Linked DNA regions of Homo sapiens. The protein of the gene in region 1 purifies or fractionates together with the protein of each later gene. This does not show direct contact. Each region holds a gene or a part of one and is shown in the gene's direction. Other genes may lie near its edges. The genes, in order: ZNF777 and ZC3HAV1.

What was found.
Region 2: the proteins of ZNF777 (region 1) and ZC3HAV1 purify together in Homo sapiens (affinity purification with mass spectrometry; 2 studies listed by BioGRID and IntAct, with this or other methods). This does not show direct contact.

What each region holds. Positions count from the first base shown.
Region 1 is NC_000007.14:149,428,899-149,440,881, reverse strand, and holds the end of ZNF777 (zinc finger protein 777), read left to right. Parts: intron 1-4,055; coding exon 4,056-4,307; intron 4,308-7,949; coding exon 7,950-9,106; 3' UTR 9,107-9,519; downstream 9,520-11,983. UniProt on the Homo sapiens protein: May be involved in transcriptional repression. Inhibits cell proliferation through CDKN1A/p21 induction by down-regulation of NIBAN1/FAM129A at low cell density.
Region 2 is NC_000007.14:139,040,174-139,052,956, reverse strand, and holds the end of ZC3HAV1 (zinc finger CCCH-type antiviral protein 1), read left to right. Parts: intron 1-5,103; coding exon 5,104-5,363; 3' UTR 5,364-9,442; downstream 9,443-12,783.

The sequences.
Region 1 (11,983 bases):
GTCTTCAAGCTGAGGTACCCATGCTCTTGAGGGGACAAGGGTACTCCCCAAGAGGGACATAATACAGGTGGCTTTGAGGGCACAATTTCCAGTCCTTAGTCCATCTCTTCTTGTCCAACTGATCAGCCAAAAGCACACAATGCATGTGGTCCCTGAAATGTGGCTTCTCATCTACATCTCCCATTATTTAAAAAAAAAAAAAAAAAAACAAAAAAACAACAGGCTGCTGGGCATGGTGGCTCATGCCTGTAATCGTAGCTCTGTGGGAGGCCGAGATGGGAAGATCACTTGAGTCCAGGTGTTTGAGACCAACCTGGGCAACATAGGGAGACCTCGTCTCTACAAAAACTTTAAAAATTAGCTGGGCATGGTAGCACTTGCCTGTAGACCCAGCTACTCTAGAGGCTGAGGTGGCAGGTGGTTTGAGCCAGGAGGTTGAGGCTGCAGTGAGCCATGATCTCACCACTGTACTCCAGCCTACGCAACAGAGCAAGGCCTCATCTCTTAAAAAACAAAACAAAACAGTCACTTCCTGCCCATCTCCATCTTACTATAAAGCATTTCTCAGAGGCATAAAGCCCCCAGGTCACCAAACAGAAAACATTCAGAATTTTAAGATACATGTCCTGCAGCGTGTCACTCTGGGGCCTGGATGGCAAGTTCTCTTGCAGCTTAGGTTGTTAGCAATATTTTACCTTTAACAAAATTGAAAGAACCTAATCATGTTGTGAGCTAATAGGTCATTAGAAACAGTTTTTGATGATCATGTTGACCATGTGATCTTCGTGGCATATAATTCAGAAGTTCAGAATTGAGTGACAGTTCCATAACAAAGCTTCTTCCAGCCCATCTACATATTTATGTAAATGAGGTTTCCCAATGTAAATGAGGTTTCATATATAAAAATGAAAAAGACTAAAATTGATTCTGAACTGTACATTCTACAATAAGAATATTGATTTCTAGATAAGTAAACTAATTAGAAAAAATTTCTATTCATCCTTATAAGAGATACATTTCCCAAAGTTTCTTTATTTTCTATCTTGGATAATTATTTATCATTCTATAGTGATAATCACTAAGGATAACTTAAGCCAGAAAAAAAATGAACACTTAGAGACCTGTGGTTATTAGAAATGAAAGCAAAATTAAACTTTCAACTTACATACACATTTTTGTGGCAGAGTGGCAGAGGAAGTGATCAGTAAAAGGCTTCTAAACATACAAATATGTTCTATTAGGATAAAATTCTGTGGGCAAAGTGGGAATAGAAATAGAAGTTCAAGGTGAAAAGGAATGATATAAAAATTCCAGCTATCAAAGAAGAATTTGTTCATGTATTTTTAAGTGAATAATGGTGGGTTTAAAATTGCCGGGGTTCTTAGATTCCATTGGTGACATTAAAGGGTGATGGAAGAGTTTATTTCAAAGTATCAATATTTACAATACTCCAGAAATTACATCTTTTGCAGTTACTGATGCATTTTATATGTTTATTCAAAAAGGTGCAAAGGAGTACATAGTTTTAAAAATCATTTTAAGGTGTAAGCAAGCAAAATATTTTAAGTAGTTTGTGAAGTCAGGGAAGTTTTCCTGATGCTAGAGTCGTGGTCATGTTTGTGGAGGGATCATAACAATTTAGCGCAGAGACAAGGATTGAAGACAGATGGGAAAAGGCACACAACTAATGGAGCAAAACTCCAGGGAGAAAGAAATGGGCAGGGCTAAGGAAACAAGCAGAGGAGTTCAGTGACAGGAGGAGGGAAGAGAGACATTACTTTCCCTGAGATTGGAGAGAAAAGGGAGGTAAAGATGGTGACTTTGAGCCAGTGTAGGAAGTAGGGGATGGAGGTATGGATGACTTTTTCTTTTCCTTTTAATAGAGAATAGGACACAGACATCTTTGGAGAGAGTGGGAGAGTTCCACAGTTCTGAGGGAATCAAAGGTCTTCATTTAAGGCTGTGGCGGGGGGGTAAATGAGAACATTAGAGCTGCTTTATATTCCATCCACTTCCAAACCAGTTGAGTTGGTGAATCAGAGAGGCATTAAAGGAGTGCCGCGCATCCGAAGGAATCCAGCTTAGGTCATCTAGCACCCATTTTCAGCCTGATGAGTTTGTCTGATTTCTTAGTAAGGGAATGAATGGATTTGGCAGAGGAGCATGAAGAGCCTCAGGAGGGCAGGACTGAGGCTGCTTGGTTCATTTATCTCCTGGCTTCTTTTCTCTTTTTCTCACAGCACTTGTCACCTTCTAACATACAAAGTAATTTATTTATTGTGTCTACCACCTTATGTAAGGTCTATGTTTTTTTCACTGGATATATCAAAAGCCGTTAGACCACATGACATGTAGTTGGTGCTCAGTGTCTGCTAGTAAACATTCGATGAATGAATGAATATGTGTGTACATGACATATTCTATTGTCATTGCAGTAAACATTTGTTCACCATAGCAAAACTCTGGGAACAAAACGTGAATGTTCTTCTGTTAGGGAAAGAATGAATAAGCCACGGTATTATCCTGACCATGGAATATATACAGCATTTTTAACAGTGTATTAGCACTGTAGAAATTGATTTGAAGCCAGGTGTGGTGGCTCATGCCTGTAATTCCAGCACTTTGGGAGGCTGAGGTGGGCAGATCACTTGAGGCCAGGAGTTCGAGACCAGCCTGGCCAACATAGTGAAACCCCATCGCTACTAAAAATACAAAAAATTCACGCCTGTAATCCCAGCACTTTGGGAGGCTGAGGCGGGCGGATCACGAGGTCAGGAGATCAAGACCAGCCTGGCTAACACGGTGAAACCCCGTCTCTACTAAAAATACAAAAAATTAGCCGGGTGTGGTGGCGGGTGCCTGTAATCCCAGCTGCTCGGGAGGCTGAGGCAGGAGAATCGCTTGAAGTTGGGAGGCGGAGCTTGCAGTGAACCGAGACCACACCATTGCACTCCAGCCTGGGCAACAGAGCGAGACTCCGTCTAAAAAAAAAAGAAATTGGTTTGAAGGGATTTCTACAAGATATTTGAGTAGAGGAACACAGAAGAGGCCAATAGTGACAAAAAAAAAAAAAAAAGAAAAAGAAACAAACATATAAATGTGTATGTGTTGTTTAGAATAACAACATAAGCACAGAGAAAAGTCCTGGTAAATTATAGGAGTTACCTGGGAAGTCATAGCGGTGAAATGGGAAGTAAGGGAAGGGGAAGGCAGATTAGATGGAAAAAAATACTGCACTAAAAACCAAAAATGTTATAATCCCATTTATGTAAAATGACACCTATGTATGTAATGATACATTTGAAATTAATCTACAGACCTATAGGCAAGTTTAGAAACAAATTTCAGGGCAGTGCGTAACAGGATGCTATTTAACTAAAAACAAACCCAAATGCCCATGGTGTACATGCATACGTGCTTGGGAATGTGAGTGTTTTTTGGACACCTCAGGGTATGGGGCCGAAGGGTGGGAGTGGTCAGGAGGTAGCCTTTTCTTCATCGACCTGATTGTGAGTGAGCAGATGAGAGAGAAACTGTGTTAACTGTACCGGTTGGCTGGTCTGACTGAGAAAGGGAATGAGCATCTCTTTAAAATAAACCCTGGCTGGGCGCAGTGACTCATTCATGCCTGTCATCCCAGCACTTTGGGAGGCTGAGATGGGAGGATCATGTAAGCCCAGGAGTTCAAGGCTGCAGTGAGCTATGATCACACCACAGCACTCGAGCCTGGGTGACAGAGTGAGACCTTTCTCTATTGAAAAAATAAGAGTAAAAATAAACCCTGACAATGCTGAATATTTTTTTTTAATTATGGAGCTCATGGAAAACAAACTTTGCATCTATTTTAACTTGACTACAGTTTGTATTGGTATTCAAAGCTACAAGGTGTCCAGAAAATTCTGTGTCTACTCATTTCCAACTCAATATTACATTTCTTCAGGGTCTCTAAGATAAGACTTATTGAGATGTAAATTGTAGGGCTGCAGAAACCTGGGCAGTTGGCATGAACATTCTGGGTTCTTTTCTCCTCCTCACCCCTGCCCACCCTCTCTCAGCGCACGATGGGATCGTGATTAAGATCGAGGTACAGACCAACGACGAGGGCTCAGAAAGTTTGGAGACACCTGAGCCCCTGATGGGACAGGTGGAAGAGCACGGCTTCCAGGACTCAGAGCTGGGTGACCCCTGTGGGGAACAGCCAGACCTGGACATGCAGGAGCCAGAGAACACGCTGGAGGAGTCCACGGAAGGCTCCAGCGAGTTCAGCGAACTGAAGCAGATGCTGGTGCAGCAGAGGAACTGCACGGGTGAGTGCTGGGCGGGGACGGCCGGGGAAGGGTTGCCATGAGGCCTCCCAGAGGGCCCCTGCCCCCTGGGAAAGCTGTGGTTCCTTCAGAGAGGTAGCTGGACACTGATGGGGCAACAGGTGGGAAAGAATTACCAAGCACGGCCTCGAGTATAGGCTCCGTGACGCGGGACTTGTAAGAATCCGTCTCCAACCTAGGAAAGAAGTGGTTACATCTAAAGACTGGTTCAGGCAAAGGGATCTCAGAGCTCACCTATCCCACCCCTCATTTTACAGACAGAGGTTAAATAGATGGGGCAAGGCCACACAGAGAGTGGCAAAGCTAGAACTCTCCCAACGTGTCCTTGATCATCTCATATCACCCTAGAAGCCTCAACTACCTTGAAGATTTCAGCCCTGGAGAGCATGGTTTTCAAATAACAATAGCACCGGCATTCTGTGGTCGAACCTAGTCTTCATTTTTGTTTAATTATAAAACTTTATCACCATGCTGCTCACTCTTGCTCCTTCTGAGTTCAAGAACAGTAAGGCACTGGGGCTCACGGTGGCCTGATCCCAGGACATCTTTCGTGATGGATTTTCTGATGCTGAGCCATCCTGGCAGGCCCGGGAAAAGCCCTACTTGATCATCATGATGTATTTTTTGAATTCACTATTGGACTTAGGTAATAAATATTTTACTCAAGTTAGACAACTGTATTCATAAATGAAATGAACCTTTTCTTGAATTATTCTCATCTAATTTTGGAAACAGTATTATACTGGACATATCAGATGAACTGGGCAGCTTTTGCTGTTGTTCTGTATTCTGAAAAAAAAATAGGAATTGAGTGTGTTCCTTGAAAAATTGGTAGAACCCACATGGACTTTTGTTTTTGTCTGGATGTTTCGTTTATGTGTGAGTCATTCACCATTACGTTTGTATTGTATTTTCATATTTAGAAATAGATCCACATCCATTTCTGTTTTTAAAAGTATTATATTGATGTAAAGTGTTTAAAAATTATCTGTAGATAATTCCTCTATAATTTGCCTTTTTGCACTTAATAAAATACCCATGGTATTTTATTAATGACCATCTCGTTGGTCAAAAGATATGGATCTAGGCCCAGGGCAGTGACTCACACCTGTAATCCCAGCACTTTGGGAAGCAAAAGCAGGAGGATTGCTTGAGCCCAGGAGTTCATGGCCAGCCCAGGCAACATAGGAAGACCCCATCTCTACAAAAAAATTAAAAATTAGCCGGGAATGGTGGCGCATGCCTGTAGTCTCAGCTCCTTGGGAGGCTGAGGTGGGAGGATTGGTTGAAGCTGAGAGGCTGAGGCTGCAGTGAGCCATGATTGTATCACTGCACTCCAGCCTGGGTGACAGAGCAAGACACTGTCTCAAAAATATGTACATATATGGATCTACCACCTTATTTTTAAGTAACTCCATGGTATTTCAGAAGTGTTTTTGACATACCATGCTGTCTTTCATAACAGAATAGTGAAAAGACATAAGGTAAATTCTGAGTATATGCTAAATTGGGACCATCATCGTATAAACTCTATTGCCTTTTGAGCAGTCCCCATTAATTGTAGTAGAACTTTAGAAAACTACTAAACAGTAGTTTGTGGAGTTTTGAGTCTTGAGTTTTAGGGCCAAATGTTTGGCGTTTACCATTCCATGAAGAAAAAAGCACCTTCGGCCAGGAGCGGTGGCTCATGCCTATAATCCCAGCAGTTTGGGAAGCTGGGGCAGGCGGATCGGATCACTTGAGGTTAGGAGTTCGAGAGCAGCCTGTCCAATGTGGTGAAACCCCATCTCTACTAAAAGTATAAAAATTAGCTGGGCATGGTAGCAGGCACCTGTAATCCCAGCTACTCGGGAGGCTGAGGCACGAGAATCGCTTGAACCCAGGAGGCAGAGGTTGCAGTCAACCGAGATCGTGCCACTGCACTCCAGCCTGAGCGATAGAGCCAGACTCAGTCTCAAAAAATAAATTAAAAGAAAAAAAGAAATAAGCACCTTTGATGCTCAAGGAGAGTTTAGTGCTTCTCAGGATCTATTTTCCCCTTTGCCTTTCAGACATACTCAGTATTTTCAGGATAAACACCAGGGCAACTAGTTACCACACTCTGCAGCTGCCTGCTCCTTGATCTTTTAGGCATCACGCTCCAAGGATGTTCTGGGTCGCTTCTTGCTGAGAATCCTAACACTACTGAGGCAGCCTTGACTCAGCACACCTGTGTCCTAATTTTACCACTGTAGTTCACTGGCTGTAGAGGAGGCCAAGGAAGTGCTAAGGACAGGGAGTCACTAGCAACCTTACAAGACGTTGGCTGGGTCACAAACATTGCTAGCTTCAGTCCATGTTACTTGAGGAGGTAGACCAGGTGGGTCCCAACCTGCAAACTCTAGAAAGGCCTAGGACTTCATTTTCTATTTGGAAACATCACTTGATATCTCTGGGCTTGGATGACCCATCTGTAAAATGGGGAGAATTCTTGCTTGACTCGTCCTATAATAAGATACTGTGCTCATGAAAAAAAAAGGACAGGTATGAGTACTCTGAAAAGGTCTTGTTGGTTTTTAATTATTCTGCAAACACAGAATTTTTGTGTCTTCTGTCACAGATGGGTCCAGAGAAGTGACTTTCTTATGTCACACAAAGCTGGTGACTAAAAATAGAACTCACCAGTTAGTGCCAAATAAGTACAAGGCACTTGAGAAAACTCAAACAGGAGTCGGGAGCCACTTCTTTTCTCTAAAACTTACATTATCATAAAGGACCAGGCTAGAGAGTTGAGGGGGCATCCCCGGGTGGGGCATGCACTGCCTGCACCTGATCCAGATTCAAGGGTGGTCGAGTCTGACTGTGCCGGTGCATCTTCCACCCATGAGAGGCTGCAAAAGGCTGGGTTCCTGATCCCTGGGGTGGGCACCAGTGAGTACTGTGGGCTCCAAGGAGGGGTGGAGTGCTGTAGGTTTTGATCACCAAGGCAGACATGGAGAGGAGAGGGAAATTTCTGGAGGAAGGTGAGGAAAGGCACCAAGAGGAGAAATCTCCAAGTGGATTAAGAAAGAAGTGGGCCGGTCTGAGCAGAGTTCAGGCAGAGATGTCCTCAGAGGGGCAAAGACTGAGAACCTTAGGAGTGGAGACCCTTTGGTACAGCTGGTAGAAACCCAACCTTTAAGTAGCCTAATGGAAAAAGGGGTGTGTATCGCTCATATAATTAGAGAATCGTGAGTATTCCAGCATCAGGCATGGCTGGATCCAGGTGTTCCCACATCGGCTCTGTGTACTGGTTTCCTTCTTTCCTGCTGGGTCCGGCTGTACCAGCAGTTTCGCATCATAACCAACAGGAAGCGATTTCCCCTGCGGTCCTCTGTATAAAATCCAAAGAGGACTCTTTTTAGCCCCTTTTAAGTCTGGACTCATTCCTGAAGCAAACAGCAAGGCCAGTCTGGGTTACGCGTCTACCCCGTTGGGGGAGGGGAGCGGACCAGGGGACGCAATGAGGGGACTTTTCCCAAAAGAAGGAATTTGGGCCAATAATGCAATGTTTTGGTGAGGGTGAAGCAGTGCTGTACCTCCATCCAGGTAGGTTAGGGGCGCCAGGCAGCAGCTAACGACTTTCTCTCTCTGTCCCTGGAGCAGAGGGGATCGTGATCAAGACAGAGGAACAAGACGAGGAGGAAGAAGAGGAGGAGGAGGATGAGCTGCCGCAGCACTTGCAATCCCTTGGGCAGCTGTCCGGGAGATATGAGGCCAGTATGTACCAGACCCCGCTGCCCGGGGAGATGTCCCCCGAGGGCGAGGAGAGCCCCCCGCCCCTGCAGCTAGGAAACCCCGCAGTGAAAAGGCTGGCGCCCTCCGTGCACGGTGAGCGGCACCTGAGCGAGAACCGCGGGGCCTCGAGCCAGCAGCAGCGGAACCGGCGCGGCGAGCGGCCCTTCACATGCATGGAGTGCGGCAAGAGCTTCCGCCTGAAGATCAACCTCATCATCCACCAGCGCAACCACATCAAGGAGGGGCCCTACGAGTGCGCCGAATGCGAGATCAGCTTCCGGCACAAGCAACAGCTCACGCTGCACCAGCGCATCCACCGCGTGCGCGGAGGCTGCGTCTCACCCGAACGCGGGCCCACGTTCAACCCCAAGCACGCGCTCAAGCCGCGTCCCAAGTCACCCAGCTCTGGTAGCGGCGGCGGTGGCCCTAAGCCCTACAAGTGCCCCGAGTGCGACAGCAGCTTCAGCCACAAGTCCAGCCTGACCAAACACCAGATCACGCACACGGGTGAGCGGCCCTACACGTGCCCCGAGTGCAAGAAGAGCTTCCGCCTGCACATCAGCTTGGTGATCCATCAGCGCGTGCACGCGGGCAAGCATGAGGTCTCCTTCATCTGCAGCCTGTGCGGCAAGAGCTTCAGCCGCCCCTCGCACCTGCTGCGCCACCAGCGGACTCACACAGGCGAGCGGCCCTTCAAGTGCCCCGAGTGCGAGAAGAGCTTCAGCGAGAAGTCCAAGCTCACCAACCACTGCCGCGTGCACTCGCGCGAGCGGCCGCACGCCTGCCCCGAGTGCGGCAAGAGCTTCATCCGCAAGCACCACCTCCTGGAACACCGGCGCATCCACACAGGCGAGCGGCCCTACCACTGCGCCGAGTGCGGCAAGCGCTTCACGCAGAAGCATCACCTGCTGGAGCACCAGCGCGCGCACACGGGCGAGCGGCCCTACCCCTGCACGCACTGCGCCAAGTGCTTCCGCTACAAGCAGTCGCTCAAGTACCACCTGCGGACCCACACGGGCGAGTGAGCGCGCGCCCCGCCGCCGCCGCCCGGCCAGGTGCGCGGGCCGTGCCCCCCCTCGGACACCGCCAGGCCCGAGCCCAGCGGGCGGGGGCGGGGCGCCCCCCAGCCCCTTTGCCGTGAGCTCCCCCTCTCCTCTCGTCCCTCCTCCCAAGGACATGGGGGCAGTGAGACCAGGTCCCTTGCTGCCGCGTTTCCCCGGGGGCCCCAGGGGGGAGGGCGCGGACCTGGGGAACCCTTTCGGGCTGTTAATTTCCTTGACAATAAAATGGATGAAACCAATCAGCACGGGGGGCGTGATTTGGCCGCCGGCCACTCAGAGGGGCGGTGTAGGGCCCATCTAGTTGGGGATAGAACTTTATAATTACCTTTTGGATACTGTGGTTCTATTTGATAATAATAGAGTAATTTTTAAAAGAAGAGCGTTTCCTGTTTGCCGTTTTTGTTTGGTTTGAAGGGGAGGGATTGAGAAGGCCGGAGGGACATACGCTAGTGTCAGTTGACAGGTTCTGTTGGGACCCTTTTTTGTGTTCCTTCTCCATTTGGGTGGTGAGGGAGACGCTGATCCCGCCGGTTCTGAAATGGAGGAGGAGAGGCAGGACTGACGTCTAAGGGACCACGGGAACCCCAGACCATCGCGTCTGCCCTGGAGTCCATGAGGTTGCTGGGAGCTCAGGACTGAATAGGTCCCAGTTGACTAGCGTGGTCAAGGAGAGTGACGGTCAGGTTTGGAATGAGCTGGAAAGAAGGTCCTGTAGCAAAAGCTGGGCGCTGCCTTCAGTGCCCAGGCGTTCCTGCGTAGCTTGAAATGCAGCTGGCTGAGGAGTAGGGTGGCGGGAGGGAAGCCTAGGGAAGAGGTGCAGAGGCCCCTGGTGCCAGTCTTTGCGGAAGCCACAAAAGGCACCAGTCAGAACATTTTTTATTTGAATGTTGCACCAAAGCTACTCTGGACTTGCTGAACGCACTGACGAACCCTGGTTTCTCTAGGTATTCATTCATTTCCCATCTCCCTCCAGCTCTCTCTTATAGAAAGAGAAACTGCAGGAATATTTATTACGTTGCCCACAGAGCGATTTACTCTGCTGATGGGTTTGGCAGTGGCCCAGAGAGAATTCAGGCCATTCGAAGGGATAATTCATGGAGGCTAGCAGAGTGCACAGCTCAGCCTCGCACACTGGGGAAGCTGGGCTGAAAGCAGAGAGACTGGCCTGAGAGGAGAGCACTGCTGAAGCCAGGCCTGTCAAGTTGTGACAAGATACTTGAAGGGGGTTCAAAAAAGGGGATTTGGAGGAAGAAGGTGATACACTCTTGACTTTCAGGAGACCATAGAGATCATCAACTCCCTCTGCTTTGTATAAAGAGTTTGTAAGCTAAGCACAGAAAGGGGAAGTGATTGATAGCACAAGATCTCACATGTGAAGCTTCTCCATTTAGACTGAATTTCTAAGTCGATGATAGGACATATAGGGATGGTGGCCAGAGGAGGGAGCAGAGGTCTGGGCTGGTGTAAAGGACTGAGGGGCAGTTTCCACCAAGACCTGAAGCATCAGCTGCGAGGCTGGTGCAGATACGTGGGCAGGTAGTTCCGTAGTGTGCAGCCAGCTTCACCAGTTGCCAGGCAGAGGGGGCCTGCAGGAGGACAGCTTCCCCCAGGAGGTGGAATCTGAGCTGGGCCTGCGGGATGGAGAGGATTTCCATACATGAGAAAAATGAGGAAAGCTTTCTTGGTGGGGGTGGTCATAAAAGGAAAAGTGTGGAGAGTAGGCTGCATGTAAGATCAGGATGTAAGCAGTGATGGATTAAACCTCAGCTGGATGAAAGGGCCTGTCTAGGAAAAACAGGGCCAAATGTTGGTTTGGAGTAGACTAGGGGTGCAGAAAGGATCTAAGACTTCAAGGCTGCAGACTTTGAATTGGATCTTGTAGGAAAAACCATTGAAGATTGCTGAGTAGGAGAGAGAGATGATACAAATAGCTATCCAGGGACTGAATCTGGTAGAAGGCAAAGAAATCTAACAGTCAGGTGTGGGAGAACCAGCTCAGTTCCACGGACGGGTTGCAGATAACAGAACCCGTGGGTGGAGGTTGAAGGGATGGCAGGGGAAATGGTTCTTTTGAACGTGAGGATATTTGAAGTCTCAAAGAGTTGTTAGTGGAGGAATTTGGGGAGGTATTTGGTAGAGGGCTGTTGCTGCCCTAAATTTTTACTAGCTCTGGAATTGGAGGACCAAAGAGTGCTGGAAATATCCACCCTGAGTGGAGACGGAGGTGCTGTGGGGTAGAATCCATGTGGGAGACTCAGAGAGGAACTTCATTTGTTACATGAAGTTAGCAGGACATTATGGGGTCAAATGAGAATGGTGCTTGAGAGGCTTTCTTTTTCTAGGAAATCTGGGTGGTTTTTGTTTCGTTTTGCTTGTTTTCTGAGACAGGGTCTTGCACTGTCACCTAGGCTGGCATGTGGTGGCACCATCATGGCTCACTCTGACCTCAACCTCTTAGGCTCAAGCAGTCCTCCTGCCTCAGCCTCTCGAGTAGCTGGGGGACTACAGGTGTGCACCACCACACCCAGCTAATTTTTTTTTTAACTTTTTTGGAGATGGGGGAGTCTTTCTGTGTTGCCCAGGCTGGTCTCAAAACTCCTGGCCTTAAGCCATCTTCCCACCTCAGCCTCCCAAAGTGCTGGGATTACAGGTATGAGCCATAGCTCCCATCTGAAATTTGTTTTTTAAAAGGATTAAACCAAATATAGTCAAAGATTGGTATTTCTTTTTCTTTTAACTGACAATTTATTGCACCAACTAGAACAGCCTGGTTCGTGCATCCTTACGTCTCTGTCTATTGGGATACCATTTAAAGTCTTTCAGAACACGTCATAGTATGTC
Region 2 (12,783 bases), about 10 Mb from region 1:
CTCCTAAACTCTTGCATCCAATTTTTTTTTTTTTTTGAGACAGGGTCTCACTTTGTCACCCAGTTTGGGTGACAATCTCGGCTCACTGCAGCCTCAACCTCCTGGGCTCAAGTGATCCTACAACTTCAGCCCCTCAAGTAACTGGGACAACAGGTGTGTGCCACCACATCCAGCTAATTTTTTTTTGTTGTATTTTTTATAGAGACAGGGTTTCGCCATGTTGCCAAGGCTGGTCTCAACTCCTGAGCTCAAATAATCCGCCTACCTTGGCCTGCCAAAGTGCTGGGATTTCAGGCATGAGCCACTGCTCCTGGATGCATGCAACTCTTTTTTTTTTTTTTTTTTTTTTTGGAGACAGAGTTTCGCTTTTATTGCCCAGGCTGGAGTGCAATGGCTCGATCTCGGTTCACTGCAACCTTCACCTCCTTGGTTCAAGTGATTCTCCTGCCTCAGCCTCTCAAGTAGCTGGGATTACAGGCATGTGCCACCACGCCCAGCTAATTTTGTATTTTCAGTAGAGACTGGGTTTCTCCATGTTGGTCAGGCTGGTCTAGAACTCCTGACCTCAGGGGATCTGCCTGCCTTGGCCTCCCAAAGTGCTGGGATTACAGGTGTGAGCCACTGCGCCTGGCCTGCATGCAACTCTTAAAAACAAACAAACCAGAGGGGAGGGGGGTGGGGGGAGGGATAGCATTAGGAGATATACCTAATGCTACGTGACGAGTTAATGGGTGCAGCACACCAACATGGCGCAGGTACACATATGTAACAAACCTGCACGTTGTGCACATGTACCCTAAAACTTAAAGTAAAATAACAATAAAATGAAAAAAAAAGAAAAAAAGAGAAATATTTATGAATGTAAATGTTTATTGTCCATTTTTAACTAATAAGCAAGCTTACTAAAAACTGCACTTCACACTTAGCTTAATGTTTGAGGGAATTAACTTCATAAATAAAAACTAGAAAATTAAAAAAACAAAAAAAAAACTAAGAATCAGTCATCTTTAGGAAATAAGTAATAGTTTATCACAGATTCAAAGTGAGTTCAACTCATACAACTAGGATTAAATTCAATTCTTGCCCCAAAAGGCAAGAAGTCAATCAGCCAGTCAGCAAATATTTTTGAGTGTCTTCTGTACACTAGATGGTGGGTACACAGTGGTGAACAAGTTAGACATGGCCCCAAACACATTTTGCATAATTATCTTACATAATTAATTAAATGACTGTGGCCAGGCATGGTAGCTTAGACCTGTAATTCCTGTACTTTGGGAGGCTGAGGTGGGAGGATCACTTGAGCCCAGGAGTTGGAGACCAGCTTGGGCAACATGGCGAGACCTTATCTAATTTTTTGTTTTAATTACAAACAAATTTTTTTAATTACCTGGGCATGATGGCACATGCCTGTAGTCCCATCTACTCAGCAGGGTGAGGTGGGAGAATTGCTTGAGCCCAGAAGTTTGAGGCTGCAGTGAGCTGTGATTGTGCCACTGTACTCTAGCCTGGGCGACAGAGCAACATTTTGTCTCAAAAAAAAAAAAAAAAAAATTAAATGATTGCAAATGTTGGGCTGCTATAGAGAAAAATAACAGATCCAGGTCAGGCGCGGCAGCTTCGCCTGTAATCCCAGCACTTTGGGAGACCGAGACAGGCAGATCACTTGAGGTCAGGAGTTCAAGACCAGCCTGGTCAACATGGTGAAACCCCGTTTCTACTAAAAATACAAAAATTAGCTGGGTGCAGTGGCCCATGCCTGTAATCCCAGCTACTTGGGAGGCTGAGGCAGGATAATCGCTTGAACCCGGGAGGCAGAGGTTGCGGTGAGCTGAGATCATGCCATTGCACACCAGCCGAGACTCCGTCTCAAAAAAAAAAAAAAGAAAAAAGAAAAAAAGGAACAGGTCCTGTGGACAACTAACCCAGCTAGAGAGGTGTTCCCAAGGATAGAGATAGAGTAGGATTCCCCTGCCTTGTAGAGTCACCACATGGCGGAGAAGGGAGAAATGGAACAAGGTATGACCATAAAGAGCTAAACTTGACTGTAAGCGCATGGGAAACTAATGAAAGGTTTTAAGCTGGGGAATGAATTTATTGATGAGATTTCATAAGTTTATTAAGTTTAAATGTATCAGTGAAACTTACCTAGAAGTGTTTGGAGGAAATGGGAAATGTAGTAACCATCTTAAGTGACATATGATAGGTGAAATTAAAACCCATCAGTTTCTTACAGGTCTATCCTATGTTAGAATTCAAACAAATATTTATCCTAAAAAATGAAATGTTAGGCTAGGCACTGTGGCTCATTCCTGTAATCCCAGCACTTTGGGAGGCCGAGGTGAGTGAATCACCTGAGGTCAGGAGTTTGAGACCAGCCTGACCAACATGGTGAAACCCCCCCATCTCTAATAAAAATACAAAGTTAGCTGGGCGTGGTGGCACATGCCTGTAGTCCTAGCTACTCGAGAGGCTGAGGCATGAGAGTTGATTGATCACAAGAAGGGGAGGCTGCAGTGAGCTGAGATCCTGCCACTGCACTCCAGCCTCAGTGACAGAGGAAAACTCTGTCTCAAAAAAGAAAAAAATAAAGCACTCAGAAATGTAGGAATAGAAATGAACTTTCTTAACACAATAAAGGGAATTTTAAAAAAAGAAAATATAGATTCCAGATTATATAAGTGTGATATAAAAAAACTGATGCAACAAAAACAAAAATGGACAAATGAGATAGCATCAAACTAAAAAGCTTCTCCACAGTAAAGGAAACAATTAACAAAGTGAACAGACAAACCCACAGAGTGGGAGAAAATATTTGCAAGCCATACATCTGATATGGGATTAATATCCAAAATATGTAAGGAACTTAAACAATTCAACAGCAAGAGAACAAATAACTCAATTTTAAAATGTGCAAGCTGTTCCCATAAGTGGCCTGCGGTGATCTGTGAAAATGGTTCACTATTCACTTGACCCAGAAAACTCCATGAAATCATGCAAATAAAGAGGTTCAAATCTTCATGTTCACTCTAAGGACACCCATGAAACTGCCCAGGCCATCAAGAGTACGCCTATATGAAAAGCCAGCAAATGTCTGAAAGATGTCACTGTATGGAAACAATGTGTACCATTCCAACGTTACGAGGGTGGAGTTGGTAGGAGTGCCCAGACCAAACAGTGGGGCTGGGCACGCAGTTTGTGACCCCAAAAGAATTGAATTCTTGCTGTACACACTTAAAAATGCAGAGAGTAATGCTGAACGTAAGGGTTGAGCTGTAGATTCTCTGGTCGTCGAGGATATTCAGGCGCACAAAGCACCCAAGATGTGCCACCAGACTTCCAGAGCTCATGGTTGGATTAACTCATGCCTAAGCTCCCCCTGCCACATAGAGACAATCTTCCTGAAGAAGCACACCGTGTTCCTAAACCAGAAGAGGAGGTGCACAGAAGAAAAAGCTATCCTAGAAGATACTGAAGAAGCAAAAACTTACAGCACGGGAATAAATTCAGCGTAAAATACATGCAAATAAAAGTTTCAAAAATGGGCAAAAGACTTGAATAGACATTTCTCAAAAGAAGAAATACAAATGGCCAATGAGTTCATGAAAAAATGCTCAACATCGCTAATCATCAAGCAAACGCAAATTAAAACCACAATGAGCTGTTGCCTCGCACCGATTAGAATGGGAGGCTGAGGTGGGAAGATTGCTTGAGCCCAGGATATCAAGGCTGCAGTGAGCCAAGATTGCACCACTGCACCCCAGCCTGGGTGACAGAGACCCTGTCTCAAAAACAGCAGCAACAACAACAACAACGAAAAAAAAAAAAAAAAAAGGAGAGAGAGAGAGTTGGATGTACTGACATAGCAAGATTTCTAGGACTAAAGTGGAAAAAAAAGTTGTAGAACAGTTCATATATTATGATCCTATTTATGAACAAGTAAACCACCATAAACCACCATATGCACATATATGTATGTGAATGCATAGAAACAGGTGTGAAAGAATTCCCGCCAGCCATAAACTGTTTTGGGAAGGGGAGTGGGATTGGACGTCGTAGGTCAGTATAGGTAGACTTCCATATTTTACTTTAAATATAGTAGAACATCATTTGCACAGAATATCTAGTATCTGACCTATTCAGGATAAGCAATGTTTCTGGAATTCAAACATCTAACTATAAAATGATAAAAAGAACAAAAACAAAGTAGATGGGAAGTATATTAAACATTTGTTACCACAAGTAAAACAATTCATTTTACTTATTGATTCTTGCATGGAAATAGGAGTTGCAATATCTACTCATGGTCTTTAAAACGACAGAGTAGCTTTCTTAGAAAATATTATTAGTATTTTTTGATACAGAATCTCACTCTGTTGCCCAGGCTGGAGTGCAGTGGTATGATCCTAGCTTACTGCAGCCTCAACTTCCTGGGCTCAATCAATCCTGCCTCAGCTTCCTGAGTAGCTGAGATTACAAGTGCACGCCACCATGCCCGGCTAATTTTTAAATTTTTTGTAGAGATGGAGTCTCCCCATGTTGCCCAGGCTGGTCTCAAATTCCTGGGCTCATGTGATCCACCCGCCTCAACCTCCCATAATGCTGGGATTACAGACATGAGCCACTGCACCTGCCCAGAGTAGCACTTGACAATGATAAAAATAAAAATTTTAACTTGGCAGGAAATTGTTGGTCTGCTGTGTATGGAAGCAGCAATCGTTATCTGAGGTTGTTTTAGAGTTGAGGACGAAGCATCAACTGACTCATCAGTTCCAAGTTTGCTCATTCAGCTCACACTGGGTGAATTGCATGAATTGGGCCACTGTGACATTGTCATTTGGTCATTGCACCCAATGGCTCACACTATCAGCATGAGCTCTGCACTGTAGCAAATATTCCTCAGTCATTTCTATAGGGTTATATACTGTATTTAAGTTCGCCTGCATCATTAACATGTTTTTAAGTGCAAAGGAAAGTTTATAAATATCAGTAAGGTATTATTGACATATGCTTAGTCCACACCCATCTGACTGTATATAACAAATCTTATAAACTGTATACCTTCTTTTATAATATTTCTTAACTTTTCTTTCTGATTCTTTCTAGGAATTTACTTTGCAAAAGATGCCATCTATTCCCACAAAAATTGCCCGTATGATGCCAAAAACGTCGTTATGTTTGTAGCCCAAGTTCTGGTTGGAAAGTTTACTGAAGGAAATATAACGTACACGAGCCCTCCTCCACAGTTCGACAGCTGTGTGGATACCAGATCGAATCCCTCCGTTTTTGTCATCTTTCAGAAAGATCAGGTTTACCCACAATATGTGATTGAATATACTGAAGACAAAGCCTGCGTGATTAGTTAGAACCGATGAATACAGCGTCAGAAGGATGCCATAACCATTCTGTTCCTTTACAGAACTAAATTGCCGCAGACAGGAGTTAAAGTTTTATATTTTCCTGCTCAGTTATCTAATGTCTTAGATCAGTGGTCCCCAAATTTTGCTACATATTAGAATCATCTGGGAGGTTTTAAACAAATTCTGATGCCCAGGTTGCACCCCATGCCAATGAAATCATTTCTGGGCGTCAGCGCCAGGCAGTTGTATTTTTTTTTTTTTTTTTTTTTTTGAGACTGAATCTCACTCCATCGTCCAGGCTGGAGTGCAGTGGCGCGATCTCGGCTCACTGCAACCTCTGCCTCCCGGGTTCAAGCAATTCTCCTGCCTCAGCCTCCCGAGTAGCTGGAACTACAGGCACACACTGCCGCGCCCAGCTAATTTTTTGTATTTTTTAGTAGAGACAGGGTTTCACTGTGTTGCCCAGGCTGGTCTCAAACTCCTGAGCTCAGGCAATCTGCCCGCCTTGGCCTCCCAAAGTGCTAGGATTACAGGTATGAGCCACCATGCCCGGCTGGCAGTTGTATTTTTTAAAGCCCTTCTGATGATTCCAATGTGTTGGAAAGTTTACCTTGTCTCAGATGTAACTGGTAAAGGCTGATTTCTAAATTTTCTGTAATTGCAGCAACCTTTCTCTCCTGTCTACCCTTTTAGTTTACTGTATGCCATGGTTTTGTTTTGGTTACATTGAAAGAAAGTTAATTTGGAAAATTTGGGAGAAATCTAATCATGCCTATTAAGGATGTAAGACATTACAGCCTTAGAAGAAAGATTGTGAAAAGCTGGGGAGAAAATGCTTAAGGACATGCTAGGGGAAAAAAAAGTAAAATTGAAGTGCTATTGCAGACATGGCTGCAGTACTGTACCTTATCATTCTGATGAAACTGATTTGGAGCACCCTTTTCTTTATCGCTACATTTATTTAGGGGACAAACTCCATCCAGGTTGACTCTCTCTGGAATGCGGTAATAAGAGCTGGCAAGTAAGGCTCAGAGAGAAGCAACCAACTGGAGTTAATTGCCCATTTGGGCTCTTTGTATAATTATGGCAAAGTAGACATTTATGTTCTAATTAATATGATTACAGAGAAGGCTTTTTCTCAGGTCAGGCTTTTCATGAAAGTATTTTGAGAACAATGAATTGCAATAACCAGCTTCACACAAGCATAACTGATAAACGCGAGTGCTATTGTAGTCTTGGCAAGTGAGCCAAGAACCTAGGAGCAGGGCCATTCCTACTGAAGGACGGGCCCCCTACGGAGATGAAATTTGTTTCCTGGTGAGCACAGAATCAGAACAAAGAACAATATCCCAAAGAGGCCCTGTGTCTACCAGGAGCTTCTTTTTCCAAATGTAATGGATTATGTGGAATTGTAGTGCCATCGGTTTTTACTTAGAGCCCTTGACGTGCTTGGACCAATATTTCCTTCCTTCTTATGAACCAGGTTTTTCCTTCTGATTTTCCCTTTTCAACATTCCTTACCAGTCACCAAAGTTTCCTGTTATAATTTCTTTTAGCAGACAAGTTATAAGTCAGATTTAATTAGCATCAGAGTTGATTTTATATTAGTCAGATTTTGGATCATCACAGAGATCTCCACAACTCCTTGGCTTAAACAGCTCCACCGGTAAAAAAAAAAAAAAAAAAAAAAAAAAAAAATAGTTTTTTTAGAGTAGAGTTATTTTCTGGGAGAGTTACTACAAATGCTTATTCTCATTGACTTATTTCTTTCATGGTAACTTTCGTTTTGGAGTGTTCATTTTCTGAACTTGACCCTCACATTGTAGGGGTGCAGTTTGTCCAACTCTTTCCAACAGCCCATTAGACACCACTAGCTGGATATTTCACAGGCATCTTTGATTCAATATGTCCAAAGTGGAACTCTCCATCTACCTCCCTCACATGAACCTGTTCCTCTCTCAGGATCTGTATGTAAGTGAAAAGCATCACCATCTACCCATTGGCTCAAGCAGAAATCTGGAAGTCATCTTTGACTCCTTCCTCTCCCTCCTGATAAACATCTAAGCAGTTTCTAAGTCTAGTTTTACCTCTTAAATATCTCTGTTCCCTTCTAAGTTGTTTGCTGTGTTTTCTTCAGAGCAAGAAGGTTATATTTTTTAAAATTTACTTAGTAATGCACATTCAAAACACACATCAAGTCTTCAGGATAAAGTTCAAAACCGCTGTCATGGCCCCATGTGATCTCTCCCTCCCCTACCCCTCTATCATTTAGTTTCTTCTGCGCAAGCCACTCTGGCTTCCTTTCAGTTTTGTGGTTCCCATTTTTAGCTAGTTCAGTGGTTTTCAATGGGCATTTCTGCCTTTTTTTTTCTAAACGACAAATAGAAATACATCTTCTTTATTATCCTCCAAATCCAATTCAGAGGTAATATGCTCCACCTACACACAATTTTAGAAATAAATTAAAAATTAAATAAAACTAATATGAACATAAAGAGGAAATAAAAGGTACCTAACTTGGGCACAGCTGTAACTGAAGACCTAATGAAGTAGTCAGATGCTTACAACTATTTATAATGCATCAATTTGAACTTAGAAGGTAGGAGATCAGATCATATGTGGGAAAATGTAAAAGCAGGGATATCAGTGGGCATTAGAATAAAAACTAGGGATACAATAACTTCTTTGCATATGACAATACTTATTTGTATATAAGAGAAAGAACGAAATAACCTTTATTGAAATAAAGATACTATGCAAGAAAATGTACAGTTGTCGAAGTGGAGAAAATGAGGATATATTCTTGCAGACGAGCTATAGGTCATACATGAATGTCTAGTGAGACATTCAAAATTCGTATAGGGTGCAGAGTAATTTCTTATTGTGAGGAACTGTCCAATGTATTGCAAGATGTTCTGCATACTTGGCTCTCACATACTAAATGCTAGTAGCGCCCCCACCCCCACGCCCAGTCACGGTGACAACCACAAACCCTATCAGATCTATTCACCTTTTTCAGAGCAGATATTTTGTAACATTCTCTTTGCTGACCTGAAATGACTCATAGATAATACAATCTACTTACACACATGAATTTCTTAAAAAAATCAATTTAATGCCCTAACTCTCTTATTAAGGAGAAATAGAAAAGAAGAAATTTATAATGAAAAGAAGATGAATTTCATTATGTAAACGCTCAGGCATGACTACGCTGTTTGAAACAGACAGATGTTTACTCTTCCTTGTAATGAGTAGGTTTGGATTTAAGAGCCGATTAGAGGCTACTTCCTGTAAACAAGTACAGGAAAATGAAACTAGACGGGTGGGGGACACTAGAATGAAAACCAGTGTTAGGGTAAAGACAAAACAGACTATGTACATAATCTGTATATGGGAAAAGAAAGAGCGAAATTACCTTACTTAAGGATAATAGGACAAGACAAATTACAGATTGTCTCAGAGAAAACAAATGAGTTACTCTCTCGGACAAGCTGTAGGTCCTACCTAAATGTCCAGCAGGACATTAGACAGTCGTACAGGGTACAGAATAATTCTTCGTTGTGTGGCACTAACCCACACACTGCAGGACATCGTTCTCCCTGGCTGCATCCACTCAGTGCTGGGAGTAGTCCCCAGTTATTATGAAACCACCAATAACCCACTGACCACAGTGAGAACCACTGATTTTTTCCACTGACCTACTGAATATCTAGCATCCTTAGATTGGCTCAACTGTTACTTTCCTAAGGAGTCCTTCTACAGAATAGGTCAGATCTTGGCCTCCCAAACCCCTTATTTTTAAAATACTTTGCGCCTTGCTTTGATAATTTGTATTATGTATCCAAACTGAAATTATCTGCTTTCTGCATTAGAATGTAAGCCCCCTGAGGGTTGAGTCAGTCTGTCTTGTTTGCTGTGCCACGCCTGATGCCCAGCCCAGCAGCATGCTTTGTACACTGATATATTGGGTAAATTTTGTTGAATAAATTAAGCTCAACTATTTGTATTTCAATAGTTGAGTTGTATTGCTTCCTGTTCTTCAAGCTTAATTTGAACTGTCTAATAAAAAGAAGTAATTAATTTGGTTCTACTGCCTTTATTTGATCTATTTCTAGGTATCTCCCAAAACATCATCAACTGCAGACACCAGTTATTCAATGGGAGAGAGATGATGTGTTTTGCCCCTTCCAGCTTTATCATTCCAGGGTTCGATGACCAAGTCACCTGGGCAAGGCACAGTGGTGGTGATGGCCCCCACATCTTTTGTCTGGGGATTTAGAGAGGGAAGGGTTGAAAGCTGCTAACACACCTTTCTTCCTTTAGTCTCGGGGGTGTGAACAGGGCCAGGCTGAGACACAAAAGTTAAAAATATAAATGGTGATAAGCAGAATTACCCTATCAGCCATTCCTTCTCCAAAAGCCCTTCTCTACTCATTATTTTCTTCTCTTTTTTTTTTTTTTTTTTTTGAGATGGAGTCTCACTCTGTCACCCAGGCTGGAGTGCAGTGGCGCAATCTCAGCTCGATGCAACCTCTGCCTCCTGAGTTCAAGCAATTCTCCTGCCTCAGCCTCCTGAGTAGCTGGGATTATAGGCGCCCGCCACCATACCCGGCTAGTTTTTGTATTTTTAGTATAGGTGGGGTTTCACCATGTTGGCCAGGCTGGTCTTGAATTCCTGACCTAAGGTGATACACCTGCCTTGGCCTCCCAAAGTGCTGGGATTACAGGTGTGAGCATCTCACCCGGCCTCATTATCTTTTTTAATCACAAAGCTTTCAGTGGAGAGGGAGCAGGGAGGAGGGAAATGGAGAGGGAGAGCAAGTTCTATGGCAGCAGAGATTTGATAAAGTGAAGGTAAAACTACCATTTGACTTGGACCTCAATATAAATAAAGCAAGGTGTAGCAAAGTCATTGCTGTCAAAGCACCTGGATTGAAACACACAAAAATGCTATCAAACCAAGCATGAGCAGATCCTGGAGTTTTTTTATTTATTTTTTTTATGAGTTTGTTTACGTTGTCATAGTGCGCTAGTTTCCGGTGGACTCCTCAGTCCAGCATTTGGTAGAAATGAAGCTATGGCCGGGTGCAGTGGCTCACGCCTGTAATCCCAGCACTTTGGGAGGCTGAGGCGGGTGGATCACGAGGTCAAGAGATCGAGACCATCCTGGCCAACATGGTGAAACCCCGTCTCTACTAAAAAGACAAAAATTAGCTGGGCATGGTGGTACACACCTGTAGTCCCAGGTACTTGGGAGGCTGAGGCAGGAGAATCGCTTGAACCGGGTAGGTGGAGGCTGCAGTGAGTCAAGACTGCGCCACTGCACTCCAGCCTGGGTGACAGAGCAAGACTCTGTCTCAAAAAGAAAAAAAAAAAGAAAAAAGAAATGAAGCTAAATAACAACCACTTTCCACTCATACCCTCATACCTTAGCTACTATAAAGAGAACTGCCATGAAACGCAATACTTAGTTGAGTGCTAAGCATGTGTGTCTGGGGCCATGGGGCCATGTTCTGAGACATGTCTTGGAAAGAGTTCAGGGGATAACAGGCAGGTTTCATTTAGAAGGTTAAGACCAGAGCGGATGAATTTATAACAGTGATATCAGTGCATGTCCCCAGAGTGACTTGCTCCAAAGCTCGTGCTACAGATGTGTGCCTGAGTGACCATAAGCTTGAGAATGAGCTTCAGAATCAGAGTGGCAGGAGACATCAGAACGTTCCAGGAAGTGCTTAAGCCTTAAAAGCTCCAATCCTAAAATACCACCCCCAACCTCAACCTCCTGTTTTCTCTTTTTCATTCCCTTGTGAACCTGCCCGGCATCTAATGTCACCCTCTTCTTCCTGAAAAATCCACATGCTTCAATAAACAGTCTGCTCTGGGATCTTTCCTTTTTACCCCTCTATGCACTTCCCCATGAATGGTCTTATTTATTCCCAGATCCAAGTGTCACACACTCTGAATCCAGGATCTATACCTCTGCTGAGGAGTCAGATAAGCTGTGCAGTGTCACGGCTACTGAGTAAGAGAACCAAGATTCTAAACCCGGAAGTTCAGGTGCAGAGTCTGCAGGTTAAGTGTGTATCTGTAGGAACAGTCTCTACCTCTTCCCTCTCACCTCCCCACCCTTCCCCCATTAACTCCTGCATTTGCTCTTGGAGTCTTCTCCACACTCTGCCTCATAGTCTTCCTCTCCACTCAAAATCCTCCCTTTTCCTTCAGTGTTCACTGTGGTCAACCCATGCAACACCCCTAGCCTTAGATGTCATTAACACCTGTCTTCACTGTCCTCACTATTCGGGGTACCAATATCCATCACCCCACTGTCATCAGTCAGAATTACTCTAGAACTGCTTTTTTTTTTTTTGAGATGGAGTCTCGCTCTGCCGCCCAGGCTGGAGAGCAATGGCGTGATCTCAGCTCACTGCAACCTCTGCCTCCAGGGTTCGAGCGATTCTCCTGCCTCAGCCACCCAAGTAGCTGAGATTACAGGCGCCTGCCACCACGCTCGGCTAATTTTTAGTAGAGATTGGGTTTCGACATGTTGGCCAGGCTGGTCTTGAATTCCTGACCTCAACTGATCCTCCTGCCTCAGCCTCCCAAAGTGCTGGGATTACAGGCACGAATCACTGCAAATGGCCTAGAACTGCTGTTTCTGAAATCCCAAACCTCTATATTCTACCTCTGACCCCAGCCTGCTTTTGAGCTCTCTGGCCCTCCTACATTTCGTACGTCGTCTTTCTCTGCTCACATATAGCCCCTTGCTGTCTTCACTCCTCCCTTACCTAGTCTCCAGCCCATTGTTCAGCCCCTGACCACTCTTTCTTTTCTTCTTTTTTTTTTTTTTGAAACGGCGCCTCACTCTGTCTCCTAGGCTGGAGTGCAGTGGTGTGATCTCAACTCACTGCAGCCTCCGCTTCCCAGGTTCAAGTGATTCTCCCACCTGAGCCTCCTGAGTAGCTGAGATTACAGGTACCCACTGCCATCCTGGCTAATTTTTAGTAGAGATGGGGTTTCAATATGTTGGCCAGGCTGGTCTCGAACTCCTGACCTCAAGTGATCCTCCTGCCTCGGCCTTCCAAAGTGCTAGGATTACAGGCGTGTGCCACCACACCTGGCTAATTTTTGTAATTTTGGGTAGAGACAGGGTTTCACCACTTTGCTAAGGCTGGTTTTGAATCCCCGACCTCAGGTGATCCACCTGCCTCAGCCTCCCAAAGTGGCGGGATTACAGGCATGAGCCACTGCACCCAGCCCCCTGATCACTCTTTCAATTCATACCTCAATCATCTAGAACCTTTGACCTTAAGTCTCACCCACTGGCAAAACCTAAAAGTGAATCAATCAAATTCTGTTCTTACACCTTGAGAGCTTTTAGGAGAATTGCAGCACTGTTTGGATCAATGCCACTACGAATTTGTGGCCT